Regions from separate parts of the Homo sapiens genome. Here region 2 is linked to region 1. Evidence: fine-mapped expression QTL. A gene starts in region 1. The other region holds a variant in brackets. All regions are shown on one strand. Distances are from middle to middle. Region 1 holds the start of B4GALT7 (beta-1,4-galactosyltransferase 7). Region 2 overlaps PDLIM7 (PDZ and LIM domain 7).

What was found. PIP is the estimated chance that this variant, and not a neighbour inherited with it, causes the effect.
Region 2: its variant is the best candidate, but not a certain one, in a credible set for the expression of B4GALT7 in whole blood (INTERVAL, PIP 0.81).

The regions. Positions count from the first base shown.
Region 1 is chr5:177,596,732-177,604,981 of GRCh38, forward strand. It overlaps B4GALT7 (beta-1,4-galactosyltransferase 7), which reads left to right and starts at 3,401. Exons shown (of 6, transcript NM_007255.3): 1 at 3,401-3,529; 2 at 7,448-7,810. The coding sequence starts at 3,480. It overlaps TMED9 (transmembrane p24 trafficking protein 9), which reads left to right. Exons shown (of 5, transcript NM_017510.6): 5 at 1-511. RefSeq lists enhancers at 2,554-2,653, 2,854-3,033 and a silencer at 3,214-3,753.
Region 2 is chr5:177,483,061-177,494,474 of GRCh38, forward strand. It overlaps PDLIM7 (PDZ and LIM domain 7), which reads right to left. Exons shown (of 13, transcript NM_005451.5): 3 at 9,466-9,617; 4 at 9,345-9,375; 5 at 8,747-8,865; 6 at 7,950-8,086; 7 at 7,810-7,846; 8 at 6,711-6,772; 9 at 6,333-6,567; 10 at 5,008-5,188; 11 at 1,010-1,130; 12 at 807-922; 13 at 334-670. The coding sequence ends at 584. Among named protein-coding and RNA genes, the nearest start is that of PDLIM7, 8.8 kb to the right of the region's middle. RefSeq lists enhancers at 956-1,671, 7,714-8,679, 8,448-8,742, 8,774-9,317, 9,318-9,859 and 1 more and a silencer at 8,537-8,636. The variant C/T (reference allele first, on the strand shown) is at 7,836.

The sequences.
Region 1 (8,250 bases):
GGCTGCAGGCACCCACAGGCACAAGCTGAAGGCAGCAGCTTGGCTGGCTTAATACTGAGCAGGTGGTGGGGTAAATGCCTGCCCCCCTCCCTCTGGCCTCTGGGCCCTTTGCAGTAATCACCCAGGGTCTGGTAAAGCCACTGAGAGCCCTACTGGCACCTCAGAATCACAGTGTTATTGATCAGGGATGTGAGGCTGCTGTTGGGGGTTGGGGGAGGCAAATGGGCAGGCAGTTTTGAGAAGAACCTTCTAATAAGAAATGTGAGGGAGGTTACAGCAGTGTGTGAGAAAGACCAGGAAGAAGGAGACAAGTTTGGGGGCTGCTTCCCCTAATGGGATGATGCAATCTGGGCTCATGCTGCCAACTAATTCTTCCACATGAAAAAAAAAAGTTTTTTGGCGGGCACGGTGGTTCACACCTGTAATCCCAGCACTTTGGGAGGCTGAGGTAGGTGGATGGCCTGAGGCCAGGAGTTTGAGACCAGCCTGGCCAACATGGTGAAACCTCATCTCTACTAAAAATACAAAAAATGAGCCAGGTGTGGTGGCGCATGCCTGAAATCCCAGCTACTTGGGAGGCTGAGGCGGCAGAATTGCTTGAACCCAGGAGACAGAGGTTGCAGTGAGCCAAGATCACACCACTACACTCCAACCTGGGCTACAGTGAGACTCTGTCTCAAAAAAAAAAAAAAAAAAAGGCCGGGAGCGGTGGCTCACACCTGTAACCCCAACACTTTGGGAGGCCAAGGCGAGCAGATCACGAGGTCAGGAGATCGAGACCAACCTGGCTAACATGATGAAACCCCATCTCTACAAAAAAAAAAAAAAAAAAAAATACAAAAAATTAGCCAGGCGTGGTGGTGGGCGCCTGTAGTCCCAGCTCCTTGGGAGGCTGAGGCAGGAGAATGGCGTGAACCCAGGAGGCGGAGCTTGCAGTGAGCCGAGATCACTTCACTGCACTCCAGCCTGAGCAACGGAGCAAGTCTCCATGTCAAAAAAAAAAAAAAAAGTATTTTTAAAGAACAGCTTTAAAAGTGCAGAAAAATTGTGAAGACATTTTCCCTATTAGTAACATCATGCATTACTTTATCCAGACTTCCTTAGTTTTTACCTACTGTCCTTTTTCTGTTCCAGGATTCCACATCACATTTAGTCACTGTGTCTCCTTAGGCTCCTTTTGGCTGTGACAGTTTCTTAGACCTTCCTTGTTTTTGATGATTCCTTGACTGTTTTGAGGAGTACAGGTCAGGTATTTTGTACGATTTCTCAGCTAGGATTTGTCTGATGTTTTTCTCATGATTAGACTAGAGTTGTGGGTTTTTGAAAAGAGACCACAGGCTGGGCATGGTGGCTCACGCCTGTAATCGCAGCACTTTGGGAGGCAGAGGCAGGCGGATCACCTGAGGTCAGGAGTTCGAGACCAGCCGCCAACATGGTAAAACCCCGTCTCTACTAAAAATACAAAAATTAGCCAGGCGTGGTGGCAGGCGCCTGTAATCCCAGCTACTCGGAAGGCTGAGACAGGAGAATTGCTTGACCCCGGGAGGCAGAGGTTGCAGTGAGCCGAGATCGTGCCACTGCACTCCAGCCTGACTGACAGAGTGAGACTCTGTCTCAAAAAATAAATAAATAAATAAAATAAAATAAAATAAAAAAGTAGAAAAGAGATCAGAGTTGAAGTGTCATTATCAACATGGCTCTTAGCTGGATATCACATTTAAAAATTAGATAATTTGGGTTTTCATTTGAGATCTGATTTCTTGAGAGTGTGAATCTGACAATCTGAAGTAGAGCTTCATCCTGATATAGTAACAGCTAACCGGATGGAGTGGTCCCCTTTAGATGGGCTGTGCATTGACCACGGTTCTGGGGTAGGATGCAGTGCCCTGGGGGAGTCAACAGGAAGGGGAATGGGTGGATTATATACTTCCAGGTTTACGGGGTAAAGGGGTTACTGGGAATGATTCATTTCCCACCCACGGTGAAGTTCTCTCTGGAGCAGAGTGATTAAGATCATAGATTGTGGGGAAGAACAAAACAAAAACCCCAAACCCATAGATTTGCAACCAAACTACCTGATTTGCCTCTCTGTGCCTCAGTTCTCTCAATTTTAACTTGGGGATAAGCACCTACCGATAAGGACTACGTGAGATAACCCTCATGTAGTAAGAACTATTAACAATGACTGGCACATAATAAGAACTTAATAGATGTTTGCTATCTATTAGGAAACTTAAAAGTTTGCCTGGAAGAGCAGAGGAGGTCAAGTCTAACAATTGCCGCTTTCTTTCCCCAGGTAGGAGGCTAGTAGGAGGGGTGGGGGGGCTGGGGGTGAGGGGGATGGTTAAGTTCCCACGGTGACGGGGCAGATATGGGAACTCAGTCTCCTATTCCCTTCTTCAGTTCTCAGCTCCACCAAAGTACCCTTTTCCTGGATGACAGCTGTCATTTATATGGCGTTGAACTGTGTGCCTAGCGCTGCACAAGTGTTTGCACTTTCTCCTTGAATCCCCACAGCTACCATATAGAATAGGAGCCATTGATATACCCAGGTGAGGAAACAGATGCAGAGATGTGGCTTGGTCAAAACACAGCTGAATTGGCAGAGTCTAGTTTCTTTTTCTTTTTCTTTTCTTTTTTTTTTGACGGAGTCTCGCCCTGTCACCCAGGCTGGAGTGCAGTGGTGCGATCTCGACTCACTGCAAGCTCCGCCTCCTGGGTTCACACCATGCTCCTGCCTCAGCCTCCCGAGTAGCTGGGACTAACAGGCGCCCGCCACCACGCCCGGCTAATTTTTTGTATTTTTAGTAGAGACGGGGTTTCACCGTGTTAGCCAGGATGGTCTCGCTCTCCTGACCTCGTGATCCGCCCGCCTCGGCCTCCCAAAGTGCTGGGATTACAGGCGTGAGCCACCGCGCCCGGCAAGCAGAGTCGGGTTTCAAATTCAGTCAACTTGTCTTCAGGGCTCGGCTCCTAACGCCTGCGCGGGCTGTCAGCTGAACTCAGCGCCGAGCCGTGAGCTTGGCTTTGCCCCTCCAAGCTTGCGCGGAGAACGCGCCGCCTGGGCCGAGACGGGGACCCCGGGACGCTCCCGCCTCCCCTCGGAAAGAGGACGGAGATGCAGATTCTCCCCGAGCGTTGGTTTGGGAGTCTGGACTCTTAGGTCCAGTCCCAGCCCAGTGATTTGTTGGGAGGCCCTGGGCCTCTGGGCTTCAGTTTCTCGGGCTTCCAGGCGGGTCCCGGGGCGGCTAGGAAGGAGCCGCCCAGAGAGGGAGGCGCGCCCGCGCTGCTCGCAAGCAGAACCTTGGAGGCGGCGGCTCCGGGAGCTGGCGGCGCGGCCGGAGCGGCGGACCCGGCGGACCGGGGGGCGGGGCGGACAGGCCTGGGCGGAGCGGGAGGCGGAGGCGCCGCGTAGGCCCGGGAGGCCGGGCCGGCCGGGCTGCGAGCGCCTGCCCCATGCGCCGCCGCCTCTCCGCACGATGTTCCCCTCGCGGAGGAAAGCGGCGCAGCTGCCCTGGGAGGACGGCAGGTGAGCGGCGGCGGTGGGCCCGGGCCCCGTCCTCCCGGGCGCCGCTCCCTTCTCGGCCGCCGGCGGAATCTGGGAACCCGAGGCCATCACGTCTCCATGTCTGCGGGTTTCTGTGAGGGCGTGTGGTTCTCCCTGTGGGTCCCTGGCGCTCTGTTCCGGTTTCTGTCTGTCCCTGTGGGTCTCTGCCTCCCCCGCCCCCTCTCCCTTTCCGCGGCACTCGTCCTTCCCCCAGCACCTTCCCCCCGGCCCGTGGGTCCGTATTTCTCCATTGACTTCCCTTTGTGAGTTTCTGATCCCCTCTTTGCTAGTCTCTCTCGTTATGTGTTTCGTTGTGTCTGTGTTTCTCCACCAGCCTCCCTCTATCTGCATGCGGGTCTCTGACTCCGCTGACCTCTCACCATGGATTTGTGTTTCTCAATTTGTCTCTGATCCCTGAGGACGTGTATTCCGTTTCTCTGGTCTCTGCCTTCCTCATCACATCCATATAGCCTCAGACCCTACCCTTCCTCCTTAACACTTCCCCCCATCCTTCGCAGGCCACCAGCAGAACCCACCAGACAGAAGCTCCGTGCTCTGCCTGGCTGGTCACTGCCTGGCACGTACTAGACACTCCTTATACACGCATTAGTCCATTTCCTGTGCAGCTGTATTGGCCCTACGTGAAAGATGCGAGCTTGGCCCACACCTTAGCTAATTTTGTTTCTCACTAAAGCAGAATGGGGAAAGCGATTTGACTGCCTCCATTCGTGGGGCACTTGAGATGTGTCCCTGTAAGTCTTCTCACAGAACACATGACTGGATCTCCTCCTCGTGAATGACACCTCATTTCCTTCATGTTTCTTAAGTCCGTCAGGTGCCATAAGATTCTGGAATTTAGTGGCCACAACTTGTACTTTTGGGGATTTTTCAGACTTGGTGTTGAAAGGGGAAAACAGGAATATAATAGAAAGCGTGGACTAGCGTTCGACCTGGGCAGGAGTCCTCCGTAATTATGTGAGCAGAGACCCCTGCATCTGTCCGACCGCAGCCTTTCCGTCACTGAGCCAGTTATGACAGTATTGGCTCTGCAGGGCTGTGTGAGGATTAAAGGACCGCACACATGTAAAGAGCATGGCACTGCCTAGCACAACAGGAGGTGCCAGTTGTCTTCCCGTTACCTTTGCAGTTTTGAGGTCCTGTAACCAGAGCAGCTGAGGATTCAAACCTCGTAGTACGAAGGTCTGTATGAGACAAGAAAGGAAAGGTAACAGAGGAGCATTTCTATTTCCTGATCCTTTTCCATAGCTGTTTCCAGAGAAATTTACTGATGTCAATTCTGTGCTTTTGACACAGGGTTGGTGCAAAGATCCACGCAACTGATGCAGGCTAGTGTAGCTATCTAGTGTAGGCTCTGGAGCCAGCCTGCCTGGGTTTGAATCCGCCTTTTACTAGTCTTGGGCAGTGATTGATGAGGGAGACAAAGCCTCTTCTGGACTGCCCCTCAGAGCCAGGGTGGCCTGGGCCTGGGAGCCACTGGGACTGCAAATCTGGTTTGCCACCTGGTGGCACCAGGAACAATTGTTCTCGGTGTCCACTGTCCTGAGGAATTGGGACTCTGGGTTCAATCCAGTTGCTCTGCGGTTTGTGCTCTTAGAGCACAGGATGATGCCCATGGGGATGTGGTCCTCATAGGAGAGGGGAGCAGGGCCGAGGGAATTAGCGTGTGGACGTGCTCGGAGTACCCAGTCCACGCCGTTCCCCTGGATAATAGTCACTGCTTCTTTTCATGAAGGTGGGATATCACCCCATATCCATCTCTCCAGTCTCTACCCTGTCCCCAGAAAAAGCCCAGAGGGCAAGGGAGAATCTGTAGAGGTTCCAGCCTTCCCAGACCACTCTCAGGACTGGGCTGTGCTCCTCCCCAGCTGAATCCACCACCACAGGATAATGGGGGGTAAGTCAGAAGCCCTGGGGGGTTTCCTACCAGGCCACCTCTCAGCTGCGTGTGGAACCTGGGCCTGGCTGCAAGGCTACTGGCTTCCAGGTTGGCGGTCTCTCTAGAAAAAGGGAGGAGTTGGTCTGGCTTTAGCATGTGACTTAAGGCATGCCCTGACTGCCTTACCCCTTTCTGTAACTCACTTGGCAAGCTCTCTGCTGTCTGGCCTGTGCTTGCTGTGCTGGGGCCACAGATAAGAATCTGACACGGCCTGAGAAGCAAGGACACAAGGCATTACAAAAAAGTGGGAAGATGCCGTGGGAATACAAAAGTGGGAGCATTATGGGGGCAGGGGGCAGTGCTGGCCATGACATTGGAGTTCGGCTCTGAAGGATCAACAGGGGTCCTCAGGCAGATAAAGAAGGACATTTCAGGCAGAAGGAGCAGGCTGTGTGAGGGCTGGAGCAGGAAGGAATATAGCAAGTGGAGAAGCTCCGAGGTGCCCAACATGAGAACATGGGGCGAAGGCTTGGGAGCACCTGGAGTTGGGGCCAGGTCATGGAGGGCTTTGACTGTCAGGCCAAAGGGCTTGGCCTTTGTCTGGCAAACAGAGGAGGGTCATTCAGAAGACTGAAGGGGTCTGAGCAGGGCAAGGAACAGATGAGTGAGGAAGGATCAGAGGGGGACTTAGGAGATAGAATTTATTTATTTATTTATTTATTTATGAGATGGAGTCTCGCTCTGTTGCCCAGGCTGGAGTGCAGTGGCGTGATCTCAGCTCACTGCAACCTCCGCCTCCCAGATTCAAGCTATGCTTCTGCCTCAGCCTCCCAAGTAGCTGGGACTATAGGCGCGTACCACCACACCCAGCTAATTTTTGTATTTTTAGTAGAGATGGGGTGTTACCATATTTGCCAGGCTGGTCTTGAGCTCCTGACCTCGTGATGCACCTGCCTCGGCCTCCCAAAGTGCTGGGATTACAGGCGTGAGCCACCACGCCTGGCCAGGAGATAGAATTTATAAGACCTGATAGCTAATCGCTGACTCTTAAGATTGTGAAGTGGATTCCTTTGCAGATTACTTTGGGGAGAAGGTAGGGGGAGTACAGAGGAAGCTTCTCCCTTCATGGATTCCTCAGCTCCTGTCTCAGCATACTCAGGAACTTCCAGAGGAGCGGCAAAGGAATCTGGTGAATTCTGTTTCTTTGTATTTGCTAACCAAAAGGCTGTCTCCTGGCATCACCCCAGTGTCTGTGATGTTCAGCTGTTTTTCCAGTTTCTGAAATCAGTGCCTGTGCTGTACCCAGCCCTCATCTTTCTTTCCCTCTCCATCTCCCATCTTTTATCATGAGCTGCCTCTTGGACTAAAGGTTTGAGGCTCGTTCAGTGAACCGCCACTGACAGTTTGGGCCTTGCATTGCTTCGGGGGGCACGTCTGATCTTCCCAGAGTAAACATTGGTCATTTTACCTGGACTAATGCCAGCACACACCCGTGTCTGGGTGGCCTTTCTGGTCATTCTTGGAAGCAGGATGGAGCCACGGTTTCTGCTGGGGTGGATCTGTAGGGGAGCGGGTTTGGAAAGCAGTGGGTTGCATCTCTAAGGTGGGGACTCCTGTCATTGGCTCAGGACATTGAGCCACTATCGTGGGGAGGAGCACCTGCAAGTGACAGGAGCCTCCTCATCCTTGCCCTGAGCAGCTCTGACCAGGACTCAGTCACAGAAAGTAAGAGAGCATTGAGGAGCCGGGGCAGCTCTGTGAACTGGGAGTGGTTCAGAGGGCTTCCCGAGAGCGGGTGGCATGGGTTGGGTCTAGAGAGGCAAGCAGGATTCGGATGCATGGTAGTGGCATGAGCAGAAACATTAAAGTTGCTTCTGTACTAATTCCCAGGTGCTTGGGGTAGACGAGTTATGTGCAGCCTCCTCGTGGGGAGGCCAGAGAACGGGTCTGTCACAGGGCCAGCCCTGCCCCGCCCTCCTGACCCTGTCCCGCGCTTGCTCCAGGTCCGGGTTGCTCTCCGGCGGCCTCCCTCGGAAGTGTTCCGTCTTCCACCTGTTCGTGGCCTGCCTCTCGCTGGGCTTCTTCTCCCTACTCTGGCTGCAGCTCAGCTGCTCTGGGGACGTGGCCCGGGCAGTCAGGGGACAAGGGCAGGAGACCTCGGGCCCTCCCCGTGCCTGCCCCCCAGAGCCGCCCCCTGAGCACTGGGAAGAAGACGCATCCTGGGGCCCCCACCGCCTGGCAGTGCTGGTGCCCTTCCGCGAACGCTTCGAGGAGCTCCTGGTCTTCGTGCCCCACATGCGCCGCTTCCTGAGCAGGAAGAAGATCCGGCACCACATCTACGTGCTCAACCAGGTGGACCACTTCAGGTAGCGCCCGCCCCCACCCTCTCCCCTCGGCACCCCTGCCCGGGCTCAGGCTTCTCAGGCCCTGTGAGAGGCCACCTGGGGCAGGGGCAGGAGGGCGGGAGGTGGCAGACCCCTCTCACTGGGTGTGACAGGAACCTTTGGAGAGGGCCCTGATCTAATTTCCATTTTGAAAAGCTCACTGTGGCTGCCGTATGTGGAATGGATTATACCAGGGCAAGAGGAGAAGCAGGGAGAGCAGTTAGGTGGTCACTGCTGTGGTCTGCGGTGACAGTGGCTTGATGGCCTGGTGGGGGGTGGGTAGAGAGAGGTGCTGTGGAGGAAGCCCAGACAGGACTCCCTGGGGATTGGCCCGGGGATTAGGGAAAGGGAGGGTCAAGGCCACGGCTTTAAAGTTGCCCACAGTCTGGCGTTATCCTAAAATCCCTGCCCTTACCAAAAAG
Region 2 (11,414 bases), 110 kb before region 1:
ATGAGGTCTCGAACTCCTGACCTCAAGCGATCTGCCCACCTTGGCCTTCCAAAGTGCTGGGATCACAGGCATGAGCCACCATGCTAACTACCCTTCCTAACTACCCTTCTCTAACCTCCAAGCCAGGCCAGACCAGTGGCTCCCCTCATGTCTGTGGGCACCGGGCCTGGCACATGGGGTCTCGCCTGTACCTCCTCCACTAACCATGAGCCCGCCATGTCTGCATCACGAGGACCACCCAGATGGCCAGCCCAAGAAAACCATCTTACTCTCCACCCTGCCACGTGCCTCAAATTCTGCCCCTCCGGATGCACAGGGGAAGGGCACACAAGACACAGCTGGGTACAGGTTTATTGTGGCACTGGAGGTGAAAGGGGGCTGGTGTGGCCAGCACCGGTGTGCTGTGGTGGTGGAGGGAGTGGGGTGGGAGGATAAGGTGGGTGGGGCAGGGCCCAGGGAGCCCCAGGCTCGGGCCAGGAGCCAGGGTTAAGGCAACCATTGCCAGCCCTACCCAGAAATGCAGGGCCACGACTCCAGGCCCCTCAGGCTAGGGGCCACCGCGGCAGCTGTGGGCAGAAGGGGCTCACACATGAGAGAAGGCATGGCTCTTGCAGAGAGGCCTGTCCTTCTTGGAGTAGAAGGTCTTTCCTTCCAGGTTGATCTGACATATCTAAGGACAGCAAAGGCCCAGTCACATGGGGTTGGGGGCAGCAGGAGAGGCCCCTTCCCAACTTCTCCTGCATCTCCTGGGGAATGAACAGAGGGCCGGTGGGCTTGGGGCTCAGTTCGAGGGGCGGGGCTCTCACCGCACAGACGAAGCAGGTGTCATGCCAGCTGAAGCCCAGGGCCTCCAGGAAGCGGTCCCCAGCGTCGATCTTGAAGTCACAGCCATGGCATTTCGTGCCAAACATCTTCTCATAGTCTGAGAATGGGGGCAGAGAGAAAGAGGACCTGGATTCATGCCTGCCCCATGCACCATCCCTCCTCACCCTCACTGGCCAGTGGGTACCTCGCTCGCAATAGGGCACGCCCTCCTCCATGTAGAAGGCCCTGTTCCGGATGGGCGTCTTGCAGGCAGCACAGGTAAAGCAGTGCACGTGCCAGGTCATCTTCAGGGCGTGCATGATCTCCTGGAAGGAGGTCCCAGTCACTCGGCAGGCTCAGGCCCCTCCTGCCCTGCCCTGGGTCACGGGAACACAGGAGGGCTGGCCGCAAGCCCTGTTCCTTCTCGCGGTAAACACTACATCTAACTGTTCAGGACTCCCACACCTCCATCTCCAACTCCAAGGTCTCTGAGTGGACGACCACTGCGCCTTCAGACTTGCCATGTCCAGCACTCAGTTCCTGATTCCCTCACCCCAAACCTCTCCTCCCACAGCCATCCCCATCACGCGGATGGCAACTCCATTCTCCTGTCTGCTGCAGCCAAACACACCCTCCTCTCACACCCCACACCAGGTCCACCAGGAAATCCAGTGGGGCCCACCCCCAAGGCACATCCAGATTCTGAGTGCTTCTCACAGCCTCCCTGAAGTGAGGTAAGCCATGGCCATCTGGCCCGTGGGACCACATAACAACTGGCCTACAAGCTCCTCTCTCTGATCCCAGCTGCCACAGCGTGCCCCTGCAACCCAAGACAGGCCTTCTCCCCCTGCATGAAACTGTGTACTGCTTCCCATTGCTCCCAGCAAGAGCCAAGCCCCATGCAGAGGCTGGAGGCCAGCAGGTCTGACCTCGTTCCCAACCGTCTCCGCCACTGCTCTCCCTTGCGTTCTCACCTTGCCTCTGCACACTGGCCTCTTGCCTGAAACTGGCACACCAGGCACACTCCTGTCCTGGGCTTGACACCGGCTGTCCCCTCTGCCTGGACTGCTCTGCCCCAGATATCTCTAGGCTCACCCCTCACCCCCTTCAAGTTTCTGCTCGAATGCAGTCTTCTCCATGAGGGCCCACTCTGACCACACCAGCAGCAGCCAGCTGCCTTCCCTGCACCACGCACCCCAGCACTTGTCGCTCTGCTCTTTCCTGTTTTCCGTAACGTGATCTAACATTACTTCCAGGCAACCTACTTATTGCGCTTATTGCTTACAGTCTGCCTCTCCCCTCTTCTTCCAGCCAAAATGTAAGGCCCAGAAGGGCAGGAAGCATCAACTGTTTTGTTAGCTGATCTATCCCCACAGTGCCTGGCCCTTTGTGGGTGAGTCGACTGGCCTCCGCAGGAGGTGGGAAGGGGCAGAGGCACAAGGGGCTGAGCTCTCCCTGGGCTGGGCTGTTCATCCCTAGGACCCTCGGGGCCAGCCGGGGCCAGCCAGGGCCAGCAGTATTCACATCTGGAGCAGGCAGAGGGCAGCATGGGGCCTCGAGGCGGTATGAGGGTCCAAGATGTGTGGGTCTGGCCAGACCTTGACCTTCTCAAGTCTTGGTTTCTTCCCTTGTGAACTGGGAAGCTAATCCCAGCCTTGTGAGGCTGTTATGAGGATGGCCCTGAGTTTAAATCCAGGGATCCCAGATCCAATCCCTGCAAGGGCCAAGTGGGGACTGTGTCACACGGAGGAGGACCTCTTCTTCTGGGAGCAGTACTACTGGTTCATTCAGGAATGCCTGCCTGGCTCAGGCTGAAATCTAGGTGTTAAAGAGAAATCTGCTGGGCGCAGTGGCTCACGTCTGTAATCCCAGTGCTTTGGGAGGCCAAGGTGGGAGGATCGCTCGAGGCCAGGAGTTCGAGACCAGCCTGGGCAACATAGCAAAACCTCATCTCTACAAAAAGATTTAAAAATCTGCTGAGCATGCTGGTGGGCACCTCTAGTCCTAGCTATTTGGGAGGCTGAGGTGGGAGGATCCTCTGAGCCCAGGAGATCAAGGCTGCAGTGAGCAGTGATCATGCCACTGCACTCCAGCCTGGGCAACAGAGCAAGACCCTATCATTATACATAAAGAAATAAAAAGCAGGAGATCTCACTTTCCCTCTGCCTCCCAAGTAGCTGGGACCACAGGTGCATGCCACCACACTTGGCTAATTTTCTAATTTTTTTTTTTTTGTAGAAACAGGGGTCTTGCTATGGTGCCCATGCTGGTCTTGAACTCCTGGGCTCAAGCAATCCTCCCACCTTGGCCTCCCAAAGTGCTGGGATTACAGGCATGAGCCACTGCATCATGCAGGCAAATCTTCTGATTTTTTAAATTGTTTGCTACTGATTTTAAAATGAAACAGTGTGGGCCAAGCAAGACATAAGTGTGGGGGACATGTAGCCTTCGGATGGTGCATTTCTGCCCTCCACAACACCTGTACCCCATCTTACATCTACCTTGCAACCGTGCCGGCCCTAGCATAGTGCCACCCTTCTCTTCAGTGAGGCCCAGAGAGAGCAACTAGCCCCTGCTCACACAGCCAGTAGATCACAGAAATAGGTTTTCTGCCCATGTCTGGCTGGCTCTTCTCACTGTCTGGTGTTGCCTGTTTTAGAGGAGCAGACAAGGTCACAGTGAAGGAACTTGGGCTTTGAGCTGGTGGGAGAGGGGGCTCTACCAGGGGTGTGGGCTGGTAGGGCAGGAGCCCAAGGCTGGGAGGCAGATTTCTCTTTCTTTTTTTCTTTTTGAGACAAGAGTCTCGCTCTGTCGCCCAGGCTGGAGTGCAGTGGCGCGATCTCGGCTCACTGCAAGCTCTGCCTCCCAGGTTCACGCCATTCTCCTGCCTCAGCCTCCCGAGTAGCTGGGACTACTCCACCATGCCCGGCCAATTTTTTTGTATTTTTAGTAGAGATGGGGTTTCACCGTGTTAGCCAGGATGGTCTCAATCTCCTGACCTCGTGATCCGCCCATCTCGGCCTCCCAAAGTGCTGGGATTACAGGTGTGAGCCACCGTGCCTGGCCCTTTTTTTTTTTTTTTTTTTTTTTTTTTTTTTTTTTTGCTGTCTCCCAGGCTGGAAGGCAGTGGCACAATCTTGGCTCACTGCAACCTCCACCTCTCAAGATCAAGCGATTCTCCTGCCTCAGCCTCCCAAGTAGCTGGGACTACAGGTGCGCCAGCACACCCAGCTAATTTTTTTATTTTTAGTAGAGACAGGGTTTCACCATATTGGCCAGGCTGGTCTTGAACTCCTGACCTCAGGTGATCTGCCCACCTCGACCTCCCAAAGTGCTGGGATACAAGCATCAGCCACTGCATCGGCCACTCTCCCATTCTTGCCGACTGATGGAACCCCCAGTTTTGCTGGACACATGGGTGCCCAAAATAAAGACTATATTTCCCAGCCTCCGTTGCCACTGGGTGTGGTCATGTGACTGGGTTCTGACCAACAGGATGAAAGCAGAGGTTCAGGTGGCAGCATCCTCTAAGGATGGACGCCATGGGGCTCTGTCCCCTTTCTTCTCCTTCCGACTTCCTGCTGGCTGGAAGGTGAGCATTTTGGCGGAGGCTGAAGTGTCATCTTGCACCATGAGTGGTAAGTAAGCAGGTGCTGCCAACAGTCAAGCAACAAGGCGGAGCCTGGGTCCACCAGATCAGTCCCAGACCACCCACCCCGGGATGTTTTTAGATGAGAAATAAGCCACCATTATTTTGAGTTTCCCACTGCTCGTGGTCAAGGTAAACCTCACTAATATGAACATCACCACACAGAGCTCTCTGGCTACTCCTGGCAGCCCTGGCTCTGGATCCAGAAATGAGGAGGACGCATGAGACAGAGCAGCTTCAGCGTGTCAAGTTGGCCGTTCTGTCATTTCACCAGGGCAGGGAGAGCCCAAAGTGGGAGTCAGGAGGGCCCAGGGCTTCTCCTGGCTTGGTCCTCCTGCTCTTTGCAGCCTTGGGCGGTTTCTGAGCAGGAACATGGTCATTTGTTAAGAGCATCCTGACTAATGCAGGGTGAGGCCAGTACAGCAGCCCATTTATTACGCTGGTAAGGACCCGGAGGGCTCACTCGGGGAGAGACCTGGACTGTGGGTTTCCCAGCAGCCCTCGTTCCCACTGACAGGCTTGGGACCACCTCCCCGCCAGCCAGCCCTACTCACGCCTGTAATCTTCTTCTTGCACTTGGCACAGCTGGGTGCATAGCGCACGTCATAGCATGGTGGGCAGAAGATGGCGCCCTTCTCCTCAAAGAAGCCACCCTCTTCCAGGACCTTCCCACACTGGCTACACACAAACTCCTCCGGGTGGTACGCGTGGCCCAGCGCCACCAGGTAGCGGCCCCTGCAGGGAGGCGAGAGCGGTCAGAGGGAGCACACGCAGAGAGGTGGGGGTCTTGGCCCCCTTCAGGTTGACTGACCACCCACCAGGAGGCCTTGGGAGGGACAGTTCATTCTCCCCATTTTCCACATAGGATAGAAGACAGGCTTGGGAAGTGACCGTGGCAGCCGTGAAGCTTACAGAGCCAGTCCGCCACACTGAACTGCTGGTGACAGGAGAGGCAGCTTTAGAGCAGGGAGGACCCCGGGAGGAAGGGCTGACGACTGGAGCCTCATAAAAGCTGAGCCGCCCCTGGGCAAACCCTGGAGCTGCCCTGTCCTGCTGGCCTGCCTGTTCTACCTGGCAAGAGCTGATAGAGTCGGCTGGGCACAGTGGCTCACACCTGTAGTCCCAGCACTTTGGGAGGCCAAGGCAGGCCTGAGATCACCTGAGGTGAGGAGTTTGAGACCAGCCTGGCCAACATGGTAAAACCCCGTCTCTACTAAAAATACAAAATTAGCCAGGCATGGTGGCGGGTGCCTGTAATCCCAGCTACTCAGGAGGCTGAGGCAGGAGAATCTCTTGAACCCAGGAGGCAGAGGTTGCAGTGAGCCGAGATCGCGCCACTGCACGCCAACGTGGGCAACACAGTGAGACTCTGTTTCAAAAAAAAAAAAAAAAGAGCTGACAGAGATGAGAGCAGGCCAGGCCTGCGAATTAGGAAGGCTCTAGAATCCGGCACGCTGATGCTGGGGGGTGTTTGATGCTGCTTGGCCCCACGGGGCAGTGCACAGAGGGAGTGGCTCCAGGCCTGTATGCTCTGAGAGCAGAGGGAGACAGAGAGCAGGAGGGAGGGGCAGACGCGCTGGGAGGGGGCAGGCCCCTCTTTGCCCAGAGAGCAGCAAAGGTAGGGGTGCAGCTTCAGCCTATGGTTGGCCCTTCGGCTATTTCGCCACGGCAGATGCTGCTAGCAGTTGTTGTGGGTGGGCTGGGGTAGGTAGCGTGGGATTAAGAATGGGAGGACCCAGCCCAGGTCCCTACTCCTACTCCAGCTGAGAACTGAATCCTTATTCCCCCCAGTCGCAGCTGAGGCAAGACAGGTGGGCAGACAGGTGGGGCTGGGCTGCAGGATGGGAAAGCCAGGGTCGGACAGGAACAGGCCACCCACCGGATGACCTTGTGGCACTGGTGACACACGGGAGTCTTGCCGTTGTTGCTGCCCCCTCCTGGCACCCCTCCGGCAGCTGCCTGCACAATGGAGGTGCGGCTCTGCAGCGGCGTGGGCGTGGCCGGCTGGCTGTGCCGGGTCAGCACTGTGCTCGTTTTGTCCGGGGCATAGCGCTCGGCAAACGCAGGGTCCACAGCCCAGGGCGGGCGGCTGGTAGGGCTGGGGGCGGTAGGGCCTGCCGGGGAAAGTGACTCTAAAGGGGTGCCCAGGGACCCCAAAGGACGGGGGTGGAGCCCCAGGCAGCTGAGAGAAGCCCACCACCCCCATGCCCCTGGAGGCTGCCCACCCTTGCCCAGGCCCGAGCCCACTCCCTCTCACCAGGCCAGGGCTCCTGGGGTGTAGATGAGGCTGGGGCTGGGGCTTCTGTCCTGGGCACCTGGCTGCAAGATCTGCCATTCAAGGCCCTGCATGGCTGAGCTTCCTGACATGGCCCCACCCCCCAACCTGGGTCCTGCTGGCCCCACGGGAGATGACTGGGGGCGTGGAAACTGCCGAGTTGGATTCCAGGTCCCACTGGGGTAGGGATGGGAAGGGCAGCTTCTCCTAGCAATGTCCAGTTAGCTGGTGTGCGGTCTCTAGCTGGGAGACGAGGCAGGGCTCCCGCTTCTGAGGCAGCTCCTGGGGTTCCCCTCATGCCAGGAAGCCATCTGTGATGGCAGGGCAGGGCCCCTTTGCCAGGTACCCCCTCCCACTGAAAACGAGGACGGCAGGGCCCAAACAGTCCGAACCACGAAACACCCCCACACCCCAAATGCAAACCAGGTCCACAAAGATAGAAGACAGGCAGAGCAAGCAGGGCTGAGAATGTTTATTCCATGCCCAAGGCAGCACAGACCTGGCAGACAGCAGTACCACAGGGCAAAGAGGGAAGGCAGTGTCAGATGAACCCAGGTGGGCGGCCAGGGCCAGGCCAGCAGGAGGCTCAGGCCAGGGGCACGAAAGGGGGGGTGAGGTAGGCAGAAGCTGGAGGCACTAAGGGGGTGCCCTGGGCAGGAGGAACAGAAAGAGGGAGGCAGAGAGGGCAGCCGGCTGGAGAGGGCCGGGCTACGACTGCACGTTGAGCACGTGGGCAGAGCGCTGGTGGTGCCAGTCCCGGAGGCGGGTGTAGCGTGGGCTCTGCAGCTCCAGGACATACTTTTCCCTGAGGGGCAGAGAGAGAGGGAGGAAGAAGTGGAAGGAAGGAGAGATGGAAGGGAGGCAGGGAGGGAGGAGGGAAGGAAGGAGGGAGGGAAGAAATGAAAGAAGGAAGGAAGGAGGAAGGGAAGGAAGGAAGGAAGGAAGGAAGGAAGGAAGGAAGGAAGGAAGGAAGGAAGGGAGAATTGAGAGCCCCAGCTGGGAGCCTCAGGAGTAGACACAGGGCAGTAGCTGGAATGGAAGAGGCAGGAGGTGGGAGAGGGGCTGGTGCCCGTCCCTGTACCTTGATTTCTTCAGGTGCTCCTCATC[C/T]GGGTCTTGCACTGAGAGGGCAGAGGCAGGCATTGACCAAAAAAGACACAGGGTCAGGGATCACGCCTGGGCTGGGGGCGAGGAAAGTACCCCCTGCCCTGGGCTGGCACTTACTGAACTCGGTGCCTGTGAGGTGGGCAAGGATGCGGAAGGAACGCGACTGGCCTGTCCCCGGCCGCGGCCGCCAGTCCTCTGTGTTCTCCATCAGCCGCTGCTTGCTGGCATCTGGGACCAGCGGTCGGAGCGGCTGTCTGTGGGGAGGGTGTGGCTCAGAACCCCACACTGGGGGTGGGCGGTGGGGGCAGCCCCTCCCAGGATTTGGTGCATGTGGGTTTGGGTTACAGTGATGGGAGGGAGTGGGTAAGGGTGAGGCCAGGAGCCCTGCTGGGCGGGTAGGTGAGAGGACAGGAGGGCGAAGTGGAGAGGAGGGCAGCCAGGGTGGGGAGGGGCCGCCACCCAGAGTGCCAAAAGGAAGAAGAAAGGCACAGGCAGAGGGGGGCTCACTGACTTGTCAGGGGTCTGCACCTGTGAAGGAAATAAGACAGACAGACAGATAAAGGGACAAAGGGACAGACACAGGAGAGGAAGAAAGACGGGGAGGGGTCAGAACAGCCGGGGACAAGGCGGCACTGAGTGTCTGGGGCTCAGCTGGCCCGACACCACAACCCAACCCCCAGCCGCCAGCAGGGGGCGCGGCGTCATTCAGAGACCCCTCCCCAGGGCGGTGCCCTGCAAGGCGCCACAGCCTCGGGAGGGGCCCTGTGCCTGCAGCCCCACCCCGGCCGCCAGGGGGCGCTGCCGCACGGTTCCGCCGGGCTGGGGCGCAGCACAGACTGAGCAGCAGCGGGCAGCGGGCGTGGGGCCACAGTGGGCCTGATGGCGTGGGCGCGGGCGGGCAGGGGCCGACGTACCCATTCTGCTGCGGGGCGCTGTCAGCGGGCGGGGGCGCCCCAAAGGGCCGGGCCGTCTTGTTGAGGGAGACGCTGGGTGCAAAGGTGTACCGCGGAGGGTCCGCGGCGGGGGCGGAGGCCTGGGCAGAGACACAGCCGGGCAGGGCGGGCGGGCAGGGTAAGGTGGGGGCCTGGGTGGAAGTGGGGCGCCTGCAGCAGAGGACAGCGGCAGCTCCAGCCCCCCACCCCCACCCCACCCCCTACATCTATTTGGAGGCTACGGGGAGAGGACGACTCAGGTTTCAAGGGGCCCATTTGGGAGTGGCGATCTCAGTCCACGCAGGACCGAGGGCTGACCGAGTGCGGGCGAGCACGCAGCGCCGGCGGCGGGAGGCAGCAGGCGGACAGACAGGCGGACAGACAGGCGGACATGCGTGGTGCCAGGACCGTGCAGCAGCCCCTGGCTCAACTCCAGGGCCCTAGACCCGCCTTAGCTCCGGTTTCTGCCCTCCACTCCCGGCCAGGGATTGGGGTACCGAGAATGTGCCAGGAGGGCGAGCAGGCCTGGCCGTCCAAGCCCACACCGCCCACCGCCCGGATGTCCCGGCCAGCCTCGTACCTTCTGCGGTTTGCTCTGAACCGGCTGGGCCCTGGAGGAGAAGGAAAGCGTGACAGCGGGCCGGGCCCGCAGGGATCCCCACTGCCAGCGCGGGCGCACCCATCCATGTCCACCCGCATACCTGCTGAGGCCCAGGCTGAGGCGCTCCCCGCAGGCCCGGATCTTGTTCTGAGCTTCGATGTGTGTGAGGCTACCCGCATTCTCGCCATCGATGCTCAGCACCCAGTCACCCACGGCCACTCCGGCCTGCGCCGCTTTGCCCCCAGGAGTGAGCTGTGGAGAGAGAAGCAAAGTGACCGAGGCCCTGGACCCTGCAGACCCAAGCCAGGCTGACGGTGGTAACACTGCCCCACCCAAAGCTGTCCCACTTCCAGAACCCAGAGAGCTCTTCATTCAACATAGTTCTAGGCAGCTGCTGGACACTAAAGCAACCCAGGAGGTGGTGGCGCTCACCTGAGCTTCACAATTTCCCAGTCACACTGCTTATTTATTCACTGCCAGACCCTCTCCCTCAGGTGGTGCTCACCTGAGCTTCCCCAGTCACGATGCTTATCTATTCACCGCCACCACCCTCCCCCACAGTCCAGAAATTGCTATGATGTCCACAAACAGCCACGCTCAGGCTAAAGCCCAAGTGTTTCAGGAGGACCATTGCCTTTTGAGGCTCCTGCTGGCCTCCTGCCCAGGCCACTCCACCTACCAGATATGCCCTCTGGCCCATGCAGGGGGCAGCTTCCTCCCCGAAACCACCGGGGGCTCTTATGGACCTCTCACCCCCCAGCACCCTGTCGGGGGCCATCTATAGGGGTCTGCTGGGACCCTTTGAGAGCCAGGAACAGGCCCTGTTATCTCCCGGTTCCCTGTGAACACTGCCTGAATGGGACCTAAGTTGACAGCTGGGACTTCGTAGGCCATACATGGCTGTCACTCCCAAGCCCTCGACTGCCAATTTCCCCTGACCCCAATCCTTCAGGCTCTTGAGCTGGGAGTCCCTGGTTCCTGTGGCAATGAGTAGAGACAGTAGGCTGGGAGAAATGGCTGCCACCAGCATGAGCTGAGACCATCAGGAATGACTTTGAGGAAGCGGTGGGCCTCGGTAAAGGAGAATGGCGTGTGCTGCCTAGCGGGTGAGAGTTCACTTACGATGGCTTTGAATGCCAGGGGAAGGGACCAGGACTTGGCTTTGAAGGTAGAGGGGCTACTGGCAGTTTTAATGTCTGGGATTGGGTATCTCCCAGGCCCTGAGAGGGTGACCCTGATAAACCCCTTCCAGGCCTCTAGCCCAGCCCCAGCAACACAGGCAGGGCAGCTTGACTGGGTCCAAGCCTAAGGGACCACCCAGCCATCTGGCAAGAGGCCTGGCACTGCATCAAGTAGGCTTTTGTGAGGCAGTGCTGGAAGACAATTTCACTGGGTGGGGGGGATCTGGGGGGGTCCAGGCTGCCAGTGGCCCCAGGAGGCTCCTCAGGTGGGTCAGTGCACAGACTGAGCTGAGGCAGGGAGAGGGGAGGCAAGAGGTTTCAGAGAGATGTCAGAGGGCAGGGCAGCCAGGCACAGAGCTTGACAGCACTGGGAAAAGAAAGGCGAGCTGGGCTCAACATGACCTCTTGCTTGCGTAGGAGGTCAGAAGGCTAAGAGAGCTCGGCGGCCCCTTCCTCACTCGCTAGATAAGAAGACTTGCTTCAGTTTATTGAGCACCAACTATGCTACATATTGACACTGAATCTTCCAACAACCTTGTGGAGTAATCTGGGATTTTACCCATTTTGCACTTGCAAATGTACACAGAGAGGTTAAACAACTTGCCTCAAGTCACCCAGCTAGTAAGAGGCAGAGCCAGGAAGTGTCTCTGACCCTAAGGCTCCACCACTGTGGGCCACCTCTGCTGAGCATGGGGGCCCAACTGAGGGGTCAGCCCACCTGGAGACACCCTGAGCCACTCCCTCACCTTTAGTTCAATCCAACTAAATCAACCCCTTATACTGTGTATGGGGAAGTGACACCCCAGAGGGGAAGTGACTTACTCAAGGTCATGGTGAGTCAGTAGAAGGGAAACCTGGCCCAGCCACT